Regions from separate parts of the Homo sapiens genome. Here region 2 is linked to region 1. The links come from fine-mapping of genetic effects on gene expression. Tissue or cell type: NK cells. Region 1 holds a variant in brackets; the other region holds the start of a gene. All regions are shown on one strand. Distances are between the middles of the regions.

Region 1 (8,104 bases):
GAGGGGAGAGGAGAAGGACTTCTTGAGAAATAAATAGTGTTTTGAGGCCTGAAGGTCTCACATCACTGCATCATAACCACCAGGCACTAAGATCTGAGACGATAAACAGCGCGACTCACATTCCTGGACGCTGAGCATGTGGGAGGCGAAATACTGAAAGAAACCAGAACCTCTCAGTGCCTGAGGTCAGGTGCCAGTCAGGGTGCCGACAGGTTCATCTCAAGAAATAGATCATTTTGGGCAACGGAGCCTGCCGAATCTCCTAAGGAGGACGTGTCCACGTGAGGATGGGTTGCCCAGAATACTATCTATCAGAGCAATCTACTGACACCACAAACACCGTGCAGCCCAGGGGAATGCCTTGTCTAGAAAAGATCCCTTTTGGCCCCAAGCCTTTCCACATGGTTCTCCCTCTGCCAAGCTGCTGCCACCATCTAATGTCCTTTATCAATGGCATTTATAGAACTGACCCAACAGCAGCACATTTTTCCATTTGTACTAAGATGTTTGCACTCATGTAGTCTGAGGCCGCAGGTCCCACTGAAAAGCCTACCAGCTTTGATTAAGATCTCAGTCTAAACCCTACTCTCTTCCCCAGAGTGGCCCCGTGACCTTGAGGAGACTATGGCAATTCTCTGCACCTCAGTTCTCTTATCTGTAGAAGGTGAGAGATGTTAACTCACACCTCACAGGTCTGGATGTAGGAAAAGACTCGAGTACATCACCTCATAGACAGAGTGTGGGCAGAGGAGGCTCCACGCATGAGAACTGTCAGATTACAGCCACAGAGACGCTCGACTGACTTGGCACTCAGGGGAGAAAGCTACGTGCACCAATGACTGGCCTAGAGTCCATCAGTGAACTAACAAAACAAACCAGCCCCACTGGGTCACATCCATATCCTCGGCCCCACCGCACCCTCCATGTTAAGACAACTGGCTACAAGCACCTTCTAGAAAGAACTATGACAGTAATTGTATCAGCCAGGATCTGGGTGGGAAGAGATGGTGGCACACTCAAAGGGGGCAAGTGAAGAACGCAGAAGGGAGGAGGGAAATCTGGGCAGCAAAAGAAAGCAGCAAGGAACGAGGAGGCGTCCTGGGACTAGCAGTGTGGCCAGGGTCATGAGCGCTGTAGCTAAGGATCAGCCACCAGCAGCCTGTGGCCTTCAGGAGAAGACAGCAACCACTGTCACACCACGCCCAGCAGAGAGGGATTGGGAAGAGACACCCAGCTTCTCCCTCCTCCGCCCTCGGGTCTCCTGCCGGGGCCTCCCATGGGCCAAACCCAACGGGAAGCCAGAGGGCAAGGAAGCCCGGCTGGGGAAAGCCATGGGGCCGGCCCCTGGGCCACAGAGCAGGAGGGGTGCGGATCTGCAGGAGAGACAGAAAGCATCCAGCACAGTCATTGCTCCACGTGGAAGCAGGAATGATTTTAAATTCGTTTCAGTGAGAACTTCACAAGCCATCAGAGCCTTTGGGAAATGCCCGCATTATCATCCCAGGTGACAGCTAGGCTGCCAGGCCCGCCCTGTGGGGAGAGCCAGGTCATAGCATGGGCGGCTGCTGTCTGGAGGCGGCTGAGGGCTCACACCTCACTGCAGCCCTGACTGTCCCCATGACCTGCTGGGAATTCATAGTGCCTGTCTGCTCACAGCCTGGGCGAAACCCCAGGCCCCAGGGAGCCTGACTTGGGCGAATTCTGAAGCTCGCCATAGATAAAGACTGAAGCAACTGTTGTTGAACACAAAGATATCTACAACGTCACTGAAACTCAGCTCGTCCCCGAGGCGCGGTGAGCCCACTGAGGGGACAAGCCCAGCTGAGGAGGCCACCAGCCTGGCCGTGGAGGTGACATGGACACCTGTGCCTTGTGGGCCTGGTCCCTTCCCCTCGCTTCCAAACCTGGCTCACCTGGGCCTCCTGGCCACCCTCCTGCTGCTTGTCCTTGGCAAATGGGTTCCTTTCTGGAGAAGTGGCACCACTTCTAGACGTGTACAAGTCTAGACATGTACCAAAAAAGGGGCAAAACCAAAAGAAACCTAGAACGGGCTTCAGCTTAGCCTGGTTCTCACTTAACCTCAAACTAACTGACTAGTGAACTGTTTTTCTTATATATTTTCCCACTTAGAATTTTTTTTTTTTTGCTTTTGTTTAATTACAAAAACCATACAAAAATTTCTTATAATTTACCACCCAAAATGATAACTTATAACATTTAGCTGCAGGTCTTCTTTTTTTCTATTAAAATGGTGATACACAGGCCCAACCCAGGTCTAACCCCAGCTCTGGGATGGGGCCAGGGTCCCTCCTGGGTTCAAGGGATCCTCCTGCCTCAGCCTCCTAAGTAGCTGGGTCCACAGGTGTGTGCCACCACACCCTGCTTTTTTTCTTTTTTTTTTTTTTTGAGAGATGGGGTCTGTCTCACTTTGTTGCCCAGGCTGGTCTCAAAATCTTGGGCTCAAGTGATCTTCCCACCTTGGCCTCCCAAAGTGCTAGGGTTACAGGTGTGAGCTACCACACCCAGCCAGTTTAACTAAATTTTCAAATACTTATTGAGCACCTGCTGCCTGTGAGATACTGTGCCGAAAATGCTGCCGTACCCAAGACCCGCAGGGCCCTACCGACCAGCAGCGAAGACTGAAGCCAGCAATTCCTGCAGGTGGAGGTCAAAACAAGGACCATGCAGGCCGCTGCGGGAACAGCTGTGGGACTCCGACTTGCTCTCTGAACCAGAGAAGGCCTTTCTGAAGAAGAGATGTTTAACAGCGGAAGGAAAGAGAGGAGCGGGCCTTCTATCAACCGGGCCTTGGAGTGAAGTCTGTGACATCTGGGACGGACGCCTCCCCTGGGACCTGAGCACAGATCAGGGCGTGTCCTCTAGGTGCCGGGTCAGCACTGTCGGTGGCCTTTGAGAGTGTGGAGGGGCTCCCGTCAGAGCACGTTTTCCTACCTTAGTTCTGTACTTCTGGTGGGAGCAGGGCAGATGCTGCTCACAGGTGCTAACAGGGCACTGAACTCGGATTATTCTAGTATGAGGCCCAAGGTCAAGGTCTGTTACCAGGCCTCAAGCGGCTAGATCAGGAACTCCTACAAGCATCTGGAGAGGGGATCATTAGACAAGAGCAGCTGTGGGACCCCAGGGACCTGGCGGTTTCATCTTAGGTCTGTCAGGGCCTGTGGCAGTACAGCCCTCCTTTCTCCTGACTCTTTCGGTAGTGCTGTGTGTGAGGCAAGCCTACATTTGCTCCTGTGAGCGTTGGCTGTCGCCTGGAAGCAGGACTCATATTGGATGCTGGTTGGGCACTCGGTTTTGCGGTGGAGGGCAGAACTCCTGGACAGCAGCATGCGGCGAGCCAAATAACATTCTAGCCTCCAAAATGGATGAGGTGAAAACAGGTTTAAGGAAAGCTTAGGTCACAGGTTACACACTCAAATACCACAGAGGCCAGGCAGACAACAAATGATGGTAATCTTCTAGGTATCCTGCCATTGGGCGTGGTGGCATTTGTGGCAAAATGGAAAGTGCTCTCCCCAACTAAAGATGGTCATGCTCTTCTTTTCTACCTTCCTTCTTGCTTCCTTCCATCCAACCAGAGCACATCCACAGGCCAGATTCAGCTTAGCAGCTACCACGTGCTCACCCTTAGTTTAGATCAGTGGTTCTCAAAAATGGGTGGTCCCCAAACCAGGAGCGTTAGCATCATCTGGGAACTTGTTAGAAGTACACATTCTTGGGCCCACTCCAGTCCAGCTGAATCAGAAATGCAGGGAGGAAAGGAGGAGCAGTGAGGCCAGGCGCGGTGACTCACGCCTGTAATCGCAACACTTTGAAAGGCCGAGGTGGGTGGATCATTTGAGGTCAGGAGTTGGAGACCAGCCTGGCCAAATGTGGTGAAACCCCGTCTCTACTAAAAATACAAAAATTAGCTGGGAGTGGTGGCACACACCTGAAATCCCAGCTACTCGGGAGGCTGAGGCAGGAGAATCACTTAAACCTGGGAGGCGGAGGTTGCAGTGAGCCGAGATCACACCATTGCACTCCAGCCTGGGCAACAGAGTGAGACTGTCTCAAAAAAAGAGGAGAAGGGGGAGGGGAGGGGACGGGACTGCCTGGCAACTGTGTTTGAAAAGGCCTGCTCAGTATTTCTGATGCATGTTAAACCTGGAGCCACTAGATTCAAAAGTTGTGGCTGAATGGGTCACTGTCTGATCCATCACAATTATGCATTTTTTTCTCATTGCTTCATCTGTGCATATATTTATAAAGCATGCACAGTATACCAGGCACTGGGCCAGGCACTAGGAGTCAGGAGCAAACAAGACAGATGCAGGTCTTGCCCTCACAGATCTTAACGCCCAGACAATTTACCTGGAATCC[T/G]GTCTTTAAATCTTGTCTCTTGTAGGATGTGTTGGTGTTGCGAGATCCCATATATTAGCTCACTTTACTATCATGCTTTGAGGAAACAGGCAGAACAGAGGTTACTTCCCTTCCATTACAAATTGAGTCCCTTTGGTCCTGCACAGTTAAAACTCTGCCTAAAGTCACAGTGTCCGGTGGCCCTGCACTGCCCACCTTAGCCGGCAGCGCTTTCCAGGTAAGATGCACTCCAGGGGCCCCTGCTCACTGAATTGGAACACACCCCTGCCATCCTTGCTCTGCCGCACAGGAGAGTCTCAGTGGGCCTCAGGCTGTCATTGCTGTGAAGCACAGGCCTGGCCTGGCTCCATCTCAGCCAAGGACAGATGTCCTCAGACACACGCAGTCACCTAATCACCCTTATACCTAGGAGCACTCTTGAATATATTTGAAGACTTGATAGAACATTCAGCCAGGCTGTCAGCTTCTTTAAGTGGAATATATTGAGAATTTCCGTCAGTAGCAAGTCTCTTGGCCTAAATGAATATTAGCAAAATGGAGAAAACAGCTGGCAGGTGGGCTGAGATCTCCGGAGCCCTTTTGCGCTGTTTCACATGCCTTCTCCTTTTTAATGTCCCCGCCCCCTCCTATTAATGCCACCCCCATTCCCTTCAGTCTGGCACACAAAGGGAACTCCACGTGGGAGTCAAAGTGTGATGTGATTGGGACAAGGAAGGGGTGGATGGGCCGTAGCTCCAGTAAGCCCTGCTCCAAAACCTCGTTCATTTGGCCCTGGCCAGCCAAGTGCGGTGGAACTCTTTGAGTTAACAAATCCCTCCCACTTGTAGCTCAGGAGTGTAAAGGCTGATTCGGAGTTGACTATCACACGCCTGCTCTGATTGGTGGGCTGAGCCCCTTTGTCGAGCATCACCAGCTCTGCAAAGGGCGCACATAAAGGAACCGAGCCGGCGAGATTGATGGCACTGTGTGGCAGGTTCCCTCCCACAGATCAGAGAAGAGACACAATCTGCTAGAAGTGACTTTTCAAATTATCTGCAGAAAACATTAGTGGATATTCTCCCATCTGCATGCCTCTGGGCCTTATTGAGTCATAAAAAGTAAATGATTTTCCTGAATGCTTTGACAAACCTGATAGTTCCAAACCATTTTCTAGCTGATTGATTTGTCATCATGCATCCCGGTGTCTCAAGCATAAAAGCTGGCTGGCAAAGAGCACTGGTGAGAGAACCACTGGCAGCTTTTGCAGGAGGAAGCCGGGGATGAGGTAAACAAATAAGGACCAAGGCTTTGTTGGTGAGGAGGAGCTAAAAGCCAGGTGAGGAAGGCTTCTCAGAAGAGGTGGTTGGCGAGACAGTCGGAGGCAGGCACAGACTCACGGGGAGGGCAGGAGGAGGCAATTAAAACAGAAAAAGTGGCTAGGCAGGGTGGCTTACACCTGTAATCCCAGCACTTTGGGAGGCCAAGGCAGGTGGATCACCTGAGGCCAGGAGTTCGAGACCAGCCTGGCCAACATGATGAAACCCCATCTCTACTAAAAATACAAAAATTAGCTGGGCGTGGTGGTGCACACCTGTAATCCCAGCTACTCAGGAGGCTGAGGCAGGAGAATTGCTTGAACCTGGGAGGTGGAGGTTGCAGTGAGCCGAGATCACGCCATTGCACTCCAGCCTGGGCAAGACTGTGTCTGTCTCAAAAATAAAATTAAATAAATAAAACAGAAATAATGCAAACAAGCAACTTCTTCTCTACTCACTCTAGGCCAAGGTCAGCAGAGCACAAAAAACACGACCAAAGGCTAAAAATAGGAGGCTAACTGCTAAGGACAGAGGACTGGGGCCTTCGAAGATGGATCTGTAGAATGGTGGAGAGGCCTGCAGCAGTGATCTCAGGGCCGGCTGTCACCAAGATCCAGAGTTGGCCCTGATTCAGAAGGAAGAGCATATCAATCCTTGCTCAACTTCTGTGCCTTTTCTGGCAGCTGCTTGGTCCTGGGAGAGGTGGGTTCTGTGCCAACCTCCTGAGCTGCCCTGGATCTAATGAGAACAGGAAGATGTGGCACCCGCGCTGCTGCAGGAAGAAGGCAGATGAGACACTGAGTGCTCACTGTGTCATTCATGCCCACGCATCGTTATCCTGGGCCGACAGAGTCACAGTTGCAAGCTTTCCCAAGGGTGACGGAAGGGGCCATGCCCTCTGCTGGGGACTCTATTCCCCGGGGGCTGGGTGGCTTTGTGAGCACAGCCTGGCCCATCCCAAGACCCCCACTCAAGGGAAAGATGGGGACTGAAAGGGCCTTCCCCTCCTTCCCCTATAGAGGGATAGGAGTAGTTGTTACTAATACCACTGATTTATGGAAGGTCTGTGAAAGGTCTAGAGTGAGCACAGCCACTCTTGGCAGCAAAGCCCAAGTGCTAAGGACAGAGAAGTGCCATGGGCAGCCAGACCATCACATCCTCCCTGTGTAGCGCCTGTTCTGAGCACCAGCGAGAAAAAAAGCACAGCCCACTCCTCAAGAGAAAGCGGAAACGTTAACAAGTGCAAAAGGTGATATGCAAGATCAAGACGAATGCTTAGGGACTGGGAAGCAAAGGAATGATGGGGGCAAAGGAGGCTCCTCAGGAAGCCTTTCACAAGGGGACATCTGTGACTGCTGAGAACGTTATGGACAAGGCCTGGTGCATCTCTGTTGTAGCACCCGACACATCCAGCTTGTACTGGAGCTGTTTACCGATGAAGCTCTCTCCCCCACACCAGGTGATCGGTTCCCAGCAGGGAGTTCTGAGGCTTTTTGCCCTGTGTTCCCCACAACATCCAGCTCAAGGCTTTGCATATGTAACTGCTCAATAAATGTGGAATGGGATTGAGCCTGGAAAATGGAACTTTCTCCGAGCATCCTCCACTAGCTAGTAAAAAATCCCAGGGGAGTGGCTGCCCTGGCCTCTACCCTGGATCTCCTCCTGCTCTGTCTTCTGGTCCCCAAGAGCAGGCCTTGCCTTGGAGCTTGGGCTCTTCTCCCAGTTCTTGTCACCTCTTAGCCTTGTTACCCTGCATCCCACAATTTAGACCATGACTATTTTACAGATGAACTGAAGAGCTTTCTTTTCCATTTGTAGGCACAAAACGAGCTGATGAATTCAGGCTTGTACCTGGTGCTGCTGCTTCACCTCTATGAGCAGAGGTTTGCAGAACTCATGAGGCTCAACCACAACCAGGTGGAAAGAGAGAGGGTAAGTCTGGCTGTGACCCAGAGCTGTCCGGTGGCAGCCCTGAAAACCCTGCAGTGCTGTTTATTAGATGTGCAAGCTGTTGAGGTCCTCACGGTCGCTTGGGAGGATATGGGACTATCATTGTTAGGACTAAGATTTAGCAGCTGCTAAGTGTACACATGGTGACCCTCTGGCTGAAAAGTAAGTGACGATCACATAATTGCTTATTATTAAACATGAGTAGTAATTAAATGGTCATCAATGGTCATATAACCGAATGAGCCTCTAGGATATTTGCCCCCCAAAAATAGAGGAGAGCAAGGATGCAGGGGCTGGTTGTGTATTACGTGTGGGCACCCGAACATGGAGGACCTGCGAAAAAGAGGAACCTGGCTGGGTGTGATGGCTCATGCCTGTAATCCCAGCGCTTTGGGAGGCCGAGGCTAGAGGATCACTTGAGCTCAGGAATTTGAGGCCAACCTGGCCAACATGGTGAAACCCTGTCTCTACTAAAATTA
Region 2 (8,104 bases), 93 kb before region 1:
TTTACTTATTCATCTCTACCAGGAACATTGTGCAGGAAATAATGAAGAGTAGGATCCTTTCCCCAACCAGGAGAAGTTTTTCTTCTTCATTTTAATATTTCTCCTCCTAAGGACTTTGCTTTTTAATGCCAGAACTAATCTTATTTGTAATTTACATGCCTAGCTTAAATTTACTCATTAAACACTAAAGTTGGAGTTGCTCTATAGCTTTTTATGAGCTGACCTTGGGCACTATTACCCTCTTTCAAAGGCACCATGATTTTTTCATATAACTTAATTTTCAAGAACACTTGACATGTGGAAGAGTTTAAAGCTGAGATATGAAGTGACTTCTCCAGACCTTGTTATTTAAAAATCTTTAGGCTGGGCACAGTGGCTCACACCTATAATCCCAGCACTTTGTGGGGGCCGAAGAGGGTGGATCACCTGATGTCAGGAGTTTGAGACTGGCCTGGTCAACCTGGCAAAACTCTGTATCTACTAAAAATACAAAAATTAGCTGGGCATGGTGGCACGTGCTTGTAGTCCCAGCTACTCAGGAGGCTGAGGCAGGAGAATCGCTTGAACCTGGGATGCGGCAGTTACAGTGAGCCAAGATCGCGCTATAACACTCCAGCCTGGGTGACAGACTCTGGCTCAAAAAAAAAAAAAATTAAAAAATTAAAAATAAATAAAAATCTTTAAATATTTACGGTTAACATTCACATGCAATAAAATCTTAAGTTATGCCTTATAAAGCAAAGCTACCAATTATTGAGTGCTATGTGCCAAGCATGATGTGAAATGCTTTGCTTGTCCTCTCTCATTTAATTCCCACAGCAAGCTTTTGAGATAGATAGTATTATTTTAATAGATCTTGTCTGGGTACAGGAAGTACCAAGGTGCTTTTCTTAGTAGTGGGCAACATCAAGTTACTGGAGATGGAAAGCCCTGTTTTTGAACCCTGGTTCTGGTACTTACCATATGTTCTGGTCATGTCCCTTACCTTCAACAAGGTGAGAACCTGGGCTTCAACTTCCTCCTCTGTTATTTTTATTTGAGGTGGGTCCTCGCGCCAACAGAACAAGCTCCCTACCTATCATTTCACTATTATAGTTTCAACCCAGTGTGCGCATCCAAACTTTTTTTTTTTTTTTTGAGACAGAGTTTCTTGTCGCCCAGGCTGGAGTGCAACCTCCGCCTCCTGGGTTCAAGCAATTCTCCTGCCTCAGCTTCCTGAGTAGCTGGGTTTACAGGTGGCTGCCAGCACACCTGGCTAATTTTTGTATTTCTAGTTGAGATGGGGTTTCACCATGTTGGCCAGGCTGGTCTCAAAACTCCTGACCTCAGGTGATCCCCCTGCCTCGGCCTCCCAAAGTGCTGGGATTACAAGCGTGAGCCACCATGCCTGGCCCAAAGCATATCCTTTTGAAAGGCAAAAACCATGAGGCAAGTTCTTAGGTTACATCCTTATCAGTTAATACTTCAATTATCAGTTAATGCTTTACTAAGGAATACTTGATAATCAGCTGAGAACAAGAACAGAATATGGACTGGGCTACTAGAGATGAAAAGATCCTAGGGTCTGCTGGAGGACCAGCGAAGTTCAGATGGGAAAGTGCCCAGTGGAAAGACTTCAGCTAAGTACATTTGTCTAGACTCTGCCCAGCTCATGATATGTCTTTGAAGCTGGTGTGAAGGCAAGGAAAAATGTTCAGTGTGTAACACATAGTCCCATCTGGCTGAAGTATGAGTGAAGAAGTGATGAAGGGGAAAAACCAAGAAAGGAAACTGTGGGGGAGGGCACAGGGAAAGTCATAGTGACGAGTTTGGACTTCATTCCACAGGCGGTGAGGAACCTTTCAGGGCTTTTTAAGCAGGGGGCCAGCAACATTAGATGTAGGCTGCTTATAGGATGGGGGAAATGGTGAAGATAGGGTGTGGAGGACAGGCGCCCAGGGTGTGACCAGGAGGCCCTCAGAATAATCCATGGAGCCCAAAACTAGGTCATGGAGCCCAAAACTAGAGTGATAAGAATAGAAAGAAGAATGTGACGCTGCCAAGGACTTGGCACCAACTGAATGGGGGGAAGGGGAGGTGTTGAGAAGACGGTCAAACCACAGACACCTAGGGATTCCGGGCACTGATGAAAGTTCCAAGAATTTCTATTCTTCCTTTACCTTACTCTCCACTCAATCAAAAATACCCTAACTTGACATCAGTTGACAAGTTGAGAGCCTAAATATGCAAAGTAAATAGGGGAGTCATCTTTGCCCATGAGAACCACAGACAGACATCAACCCGGCAAAGCCGGGCAAGGTGGCTCATGCCTGTAATCCCAGCACTTTCGGAGGCCCAGGCGGGCGGATCACTTGAGGTCAGGAGTTCGAGACCAGCCTGGCCAACATGGAGAAACCCCGTCTCTACTTAAAAAAAAAAAAAAAATACAAAAACTAGCCGGGTGTGGTGGCGCATGCCTGTAATCCCAGCTACTCGGACGGCTGAAGCATGAAAATCGCTTGAGCCCCGGAGGCAGAGGTTGCAGTGAGCCAAGATCGTGCCACTGCACTGTCCAGCCTGAGCTACAGAGCAAGACTCTGTCTAAAAAAAAAAAAAAGAAAGAAAGAAAAAAAAGAAAAGAAAAGAAAAGAAAAAGAAAGAAATCAACCTGGCACAGAGAAGGTGAGGGTAGTAGCGGTTCTGGTGCCCTGGCTCCAAAGCTGTAGGGCCTGGTCTAGGCCTCTAAGCACCTCTCTCCTTGGAAAGGGGGTGAAGACGACTGATTACGAAGAGGCCTGGGCTCTAATGTCGGTTCTGCCACTGACTGGGTGCCTGGCTTCATCGCTTATTTCTTCTTTTTCGTGTTGGACCAGAGCATTCCAGATGTCCTCTGCAGAGGTCGAACTCCAGGACTGCAGTATCTTTTCCTCTTCGCATGTACCGCTTTTCACATTCCCTGATTCCATTAAAAATATTTTCCTCTCTCGTTTTCTAATCTCATTTTTTATGAAGCACAGCACCCTTTCAGGGAAGGGAGCAGAGGCCTGGATATCTGGGTCTGGGCTTGGGCACCCAGACAAAGCCAACCGCCTCCTCCTTGGGCATCTCTTCTCTGCCCACCAGCGTGGCTCTGACTCCCCGACTGCAGCCCGCCTCGTTCCCACGGCAACCGGCGGGCGCCCACGACTGGCTTGGGACCCCGGGGCCACAGCCCCGCCCCGCCCCGCCCCGTGCTCTCGGCGGCTGCACCTGGTCGCGCGGGGGCGGGGAGGCGCGGTTGCTAGGGAAACCGGAGGACGCCCGGTAGCCGCCCCCACCGCCTCCGCCCCAGGCAAGGCCGGCCGGCGCCGCGGAAAGCAGCCTCGGGGAAGGAGGAGGAAGAGGGGCAGGTGTAGGGAGTGAAGAAGCAAAAAGAGGAGGAGGAAGAGGAGCTCAGGGCCGTCCCCGCGCAATTAATGGGCGGCTCCTGCGCCCTGGACCGGCCCGCCCGCCCAGCCCCTCGACCCCTGTAGCCCCGGCAGGGGAGGAAGGGCAGACCCACAGGTAACGGCCCCCTCGCCCCCGCCGCTCCGCTCCAGTTCTCCCAGGATGGGGGACAACCTTCCCTTTCGACTTACAAGATTCTGGAGGGAAACCGGGCCTGACATCCGGTGGCCTGGCCGTCCCCTCCCCTCGGCTGACCCCAGCCCCAGCATTTTTCTGTCTCAGAGGGACAGGTTTGGGGGAGACCGTGAACCTTTGCTCACTGGCACCCACATTCTTTCCTGCAGACGCCACTGGTCAGAAAAGGTATACACAGACCATGGCCCACTGGGCTTCTGAATGCGAAATGGTCGATATTGATTTTGTTTATTTTTGAGAAGGAGTCTCGCTCTGTCTCCCAGGTTGGAGTGCAGCGGTGCAGTCAGGGCTCACTGCAGCCTCGACCTCCCAGGCTCAAGCGATCCTCCCGCCTCAGCCTCCCGGTGGTAGCTGGGACCACAGGCCAACACCATGTCTGGCTAATGTTTTAAATTATTTGTAAAGAAGGGGTCTCGTTATGTTTCTCTGGCTGGATATTGTTATTAATGATGGCACTGAATTGCTTGTCAAACCTGTGACGTTTCCTCCCCCAGAGTTTCCCAATTACACGTTGAGTTTCTCCTCTCTTCTGGGCTTGATGGTCGAAATGTGACCACCTATCTCTCCTAGTTTCACAGTAAAATGAAGAGTCACCGCCAAACACAAGTCTGTTCCCCACCCTCCACCCCGCCCCCAACTCTTAAGCCAAATTGGCTGGAAGAGTTGAAAGATCTCCTTACCTTTCCCAACCAATTCCCCCTTTTTCTCTGCAGTCACAGTATTCTTAAATTGGGCCCAAATCGTAAACTTTGTTGCTTATACTCAAGACATGTTTATAAGCTAAGACTTTAAAATGCAAAGTTTTTTTTAGAGCTAAGATTTAAACAAATCCTATAATGTCTGACATTACAAATTAATCAATTGGGGAAAAGGTTGAATAAGGTCTCCTGAAATCCTTCTCCAATCACCTAATTGTGGAAAGGGAGTAATTTTCGAGCCTGATTGTCCGGTATTAACAATAGCCATTTAGATTTTATTTCAAAGCAACCTTCCGTCTAAGGAGGAGGTTAGATTGTTTACATTTCCTTTATTGCTTAACAGCATATTAACTTTAGTGATGTCTTTCTCTTATGAGAACATAGTAAGAAACCAATAAGACTTTGATTGTTATTAAGAACAGGCTCCTTCAAATCAGTTCTTTTGACAAATGTGGTCATAAAACAGAGGGATGGTACGTATGCATGACTTTTAGAGCACTGAAAAACATTCTGCAATCAGATTCTGTTCCCCTCAGTCAGGAAAACTTGGTTGGAATTCACTGGAAAATTACACTAGAGAAGAACGTGTATGTCACAAAGTTCTTAGAATATTCCCCCATTAAAATTTCACAGATATGTAGAATTTTGAGGCCAAGAAGAATTACTCGCTCTTGCTTTCAGCAAGGCAGGACCCCCTCCTTCCTTCTCCACCTGCCTCCAACTCCCTCCTCCTTTCTCTCTCCCTACTTAATATGGCTTCTTATGTTGATTTCTAAAGCACAGATTTGGCACAAGACATTATCACCAGAAAGACTTAAAACAGAAGTGTGCATAACCATGAGTGGGTTTTAAATTAAGAAGCAGTTCAAAGGTGAGCGATAGAAGAGAATACAGAGTGCTATTTTAGAAACATGCGCCTTGCTCACATTTTATTATCACCCCCACCCCAACCCTCTGTGTTTGCTGGGGAAAAATTCTTGGCTTCAAGTGGCCATCTGGTTGAGTAGGCCCACAAAGCTGAGATCCATGAATTAAGCATTATCTCATGTAGTTTTATTTCCATACTGTTATTTCTGTTTCTTGTTCATCCTGGTCAGTTTTTCAAACTGACTGAGTGCAGTATGAACTTCAAGCAAACACAGAGAATGTTTGCTTATACTGAGGTAACCCACCATCTTCTTGGTCTGACACTAATACCGTTTTCTTGGTTCCCGTAATATTTGTTTAATCTCATGAAGACTTGATGTATTTAAATAAAAAATTACATGTGGCACCACGATGTTTCTAAATATTGTAAAATACAATGTAATAGAGAGTTTATGGGAAGGAAGAGAGACTTTTGTAGGCAATTTTATTTTTATTATTTTATTATTATTATTATTATTTTTTTTTATTTTTGAGGGGATGGAGTCTCTCTCTGGAGTGCAGTGGTGCGATCTTGGCTCACTGCAACCTCCGCCTTCCAGGTTCAAGTGATTCTTCTGTCTCAGCCTCCCAAGTAGCTGGGACTACAGGAGTGCACCACCACGCCCAGCAAATTTTTGTATTTTTAGTAAAGATGGGGTTTTGCCACGTTGGCCAGGCCGATCTCGAACTCCTGACCTCAAGTGATCCACCTGCCTTGGCCTCTGTAAGTGCTGGGATTACAGGCATTTTAAAGTCCTTTATTTGGTAGGTGATTGTGAAGTCAGAGGTAACTTAGCAAGTAATTCAAAGGGTGCTACTTCCTATTTAGACAAAGTTATTTCATGCCTCTTGACTTAGAAGCCTCCTTAAATTAACCCTGCTCTAAAGCCGTGATAGATTAACCGGCTTTCTATATTAACTTTGGCAACCAAAATGTATCATCCAAGTGGACTCTGGGATGCTCCCCTTTAGTGACCATTAACATATTTTTATTATGAGTCTTTATGGTCTCTGCCTGAATAAGATTCAGACAGGCTTCTCTTTCCCACAGTAGCAGCAGGAGCTTATCCTTCTGCCTGTTTTAACACCATCGTTTTCTGAAAAGAGTGCAAAGGTAACTTCATTCTATGCAGGTACACATTCAGATGAAAAGCTAAAAGTGATCTTTTAAAACATAGTCCCATAAGTGATTATTAAAATGCTTAGAGACAAAATGTATGTTTTGTGTGTAGACTGGAAATACACATTGGATTGTAGTTTCAGATTCTGACTGTCAAAAGACCAACTTTCCATACTCCAGAGAAAATAGCCCCCAAGAGACGAGCACAAGTTTTCCCCATTGTTCAGGGCCAGATGATAAACCATGTGAGATTTCATAACTACCAGACCAGACGCTGGGTCACCATGAGTCCGGGGCGGCCTGACTCTGCCAATATCTGCACAACTGAATAAACAGGAGGAGCGAGGGAATGCCGCAGAACGTATACACCTGAAGGTAGAGATGTCGCCTGTCCCATCCTGATGTTTCCCCAGAGCCTAGCAGCCCTTGTCACACACAGCAGTTGTAAAAAATATGTGTGTGTGTGTGTGTGTAGAAATAAATGAAAGAGCTTCAGTAGACAACAAACAGGAATAGTGTGGGGGCTTTGATGACCCCATAGATGAGGGGTCGTTATTAACAGTGCCATTTTATCCCTTTGTGAGCTTAGATATCTTGGCCATAAATTTGGGCCATGCCAGTCAAAGCCAAACTTCTTGAAAGCATGATCTCCACGCCTTTGCCTCCCATTTACGCAACCTTCTGCAGCCCTCCCAGCCCCGTCACTCCAATGAATGCTCTCACCAAGGTTATTAATAGCCTCCTTTTTGAAACCCTCTCTTCTGGGCATCTCTGAAACGGCACCCACCTGGTTTCTTCCTGCCTCTCTGGCTTTTTCTTTTTTTTCCGCAGAGTTTCTCTTCAGCGGCTTGTTCTCTAAATATTCGTGTTCTTCACGAGGTTTTGTCCCTGTGTCCTCTTTCTCTTTTCGTTCCCATTCTTCCTTCAACTTCAGTTATCACAGAATGCCAGCAGTGCCCAAATCTGTACCTCTCCGGTCAGCTCCAGAGCCCTGCGTCTGACAGCACACTTGACATCTCCGTTTGCCGCACCGCAGACACTTGTGACGCCATGCTGTCTCCTCACAAAGCAGCTCCTCCTGTGTTTTCTGAAGCGAATGCTGGCACCAACCCACTGGCTGCTCAAGCCAGTAACCTGGGCATCCCTGAGACTTCCACCCCTGGTCCATTCATATAATCGCAAGCCCTGATGACTTTCTGTCCTGAGCATCCCTTGAATCCCTTGGTTAAGAGTGTGGGTACTGGAGCGAGTCTCCGGGTTCACATCCCGACTCTTCCCCTCACTAGCTCCGTAACTTTAGGGAAGTTACTTAATCCCTTTGGTCCTCAGTTTCCTCACCTGCGAAATAGAGATCTAGTGCTGGCCTCACTGCGTTGTTGAGAAGATTGAATGAGTTAATTGATGTAACTGCTTAGAACAAGGCCTATCCCTTCCAGAGGGTCGGTAAAGAGTAACTATGGGCCGGGCGCAGTAGCTTATGCCTGTAATCCCAGCACTTTGGGAGGCCAAGGTGGGCAGATCACCTGACGTCAGGAGCTCAAGATCAGTCTGGCCGATATGGTGAAACCTCGCCTCTACTAATAAAAAATTAGCCGGGTGTGGTGGCACGTGCCTGTAATCCCAGCTACTTGGGAGGCTGAAGCAGGAGAATAGCTGGAACCTGGGAGGCGGAGGTTGTGGTGAGCCGAGATAGCCCCACGGCACTCCAGCCTGGGCGACAGAGCAGGACTCCATCTCAAAAAAAAATAAAAAAGAGTAGCTATGATCCCCTCTCCCTCCC

Direction of the effects. Alleles are on the strand shown, and positions count from the first base shown. SD is a standard deviation of normalised expression in the study named.
For the expression in NK cells of the gene that starts at base 3,285 in region 2, G is the high allele of the variant in region 1 and T is the other (large effect, 0.78 SD a copy in Gilchrist 2021).

Evidence for each region. PIP is the estimated chance that this variant, and not a neighbour inherited with it, causes the effect.
Region 2: it holds the start of MARCHF10, and the variant in region 1 is fine-mapped to the expression of MARCHF10 in NK cells (Gilchrist 2021, PIP 0.95).

What each region holds. Positions count from the first base shown.
Region 1 is chr17:62,710,734-62,718,837 of GRCh38, reverse strand. MARCHF10 (membrane associated ring-CH-type finger 10) reads left to right here. Exons shown (of 11, transcript NM_152598.4): 9 at 7,494-7,607. All of the region lies in intron 2 of MARCHF10-AS1 (MARCHF10 antisense RNA 1), which reads right to left. Among named protein-coding and RNA genes, the nearest start is that of MARCHF10-AS1, 8.6 kb to the right of the region's middle. The variant T/G (reference allele first, on the strand shown) is at 4,381.
Region 2 is chr17:62,803,495-62,811,598 of GRCh38, reverse strand. MARCHF10 (membrane associated ring-CH-type finger 10) reads left to right here and starts at 3,285. Exons shown (of 11, transcript NM_152598.4): 1 at 3,285-3,522. MARCHF10-DT (MARCHF10 divergent transcript) reads right to left here and starts at 3,097. Exons shown (of 2, transcript NR_135634.1): 1 at 2,648-3,097. RefSeq lists a silencer at 3,247-3,396.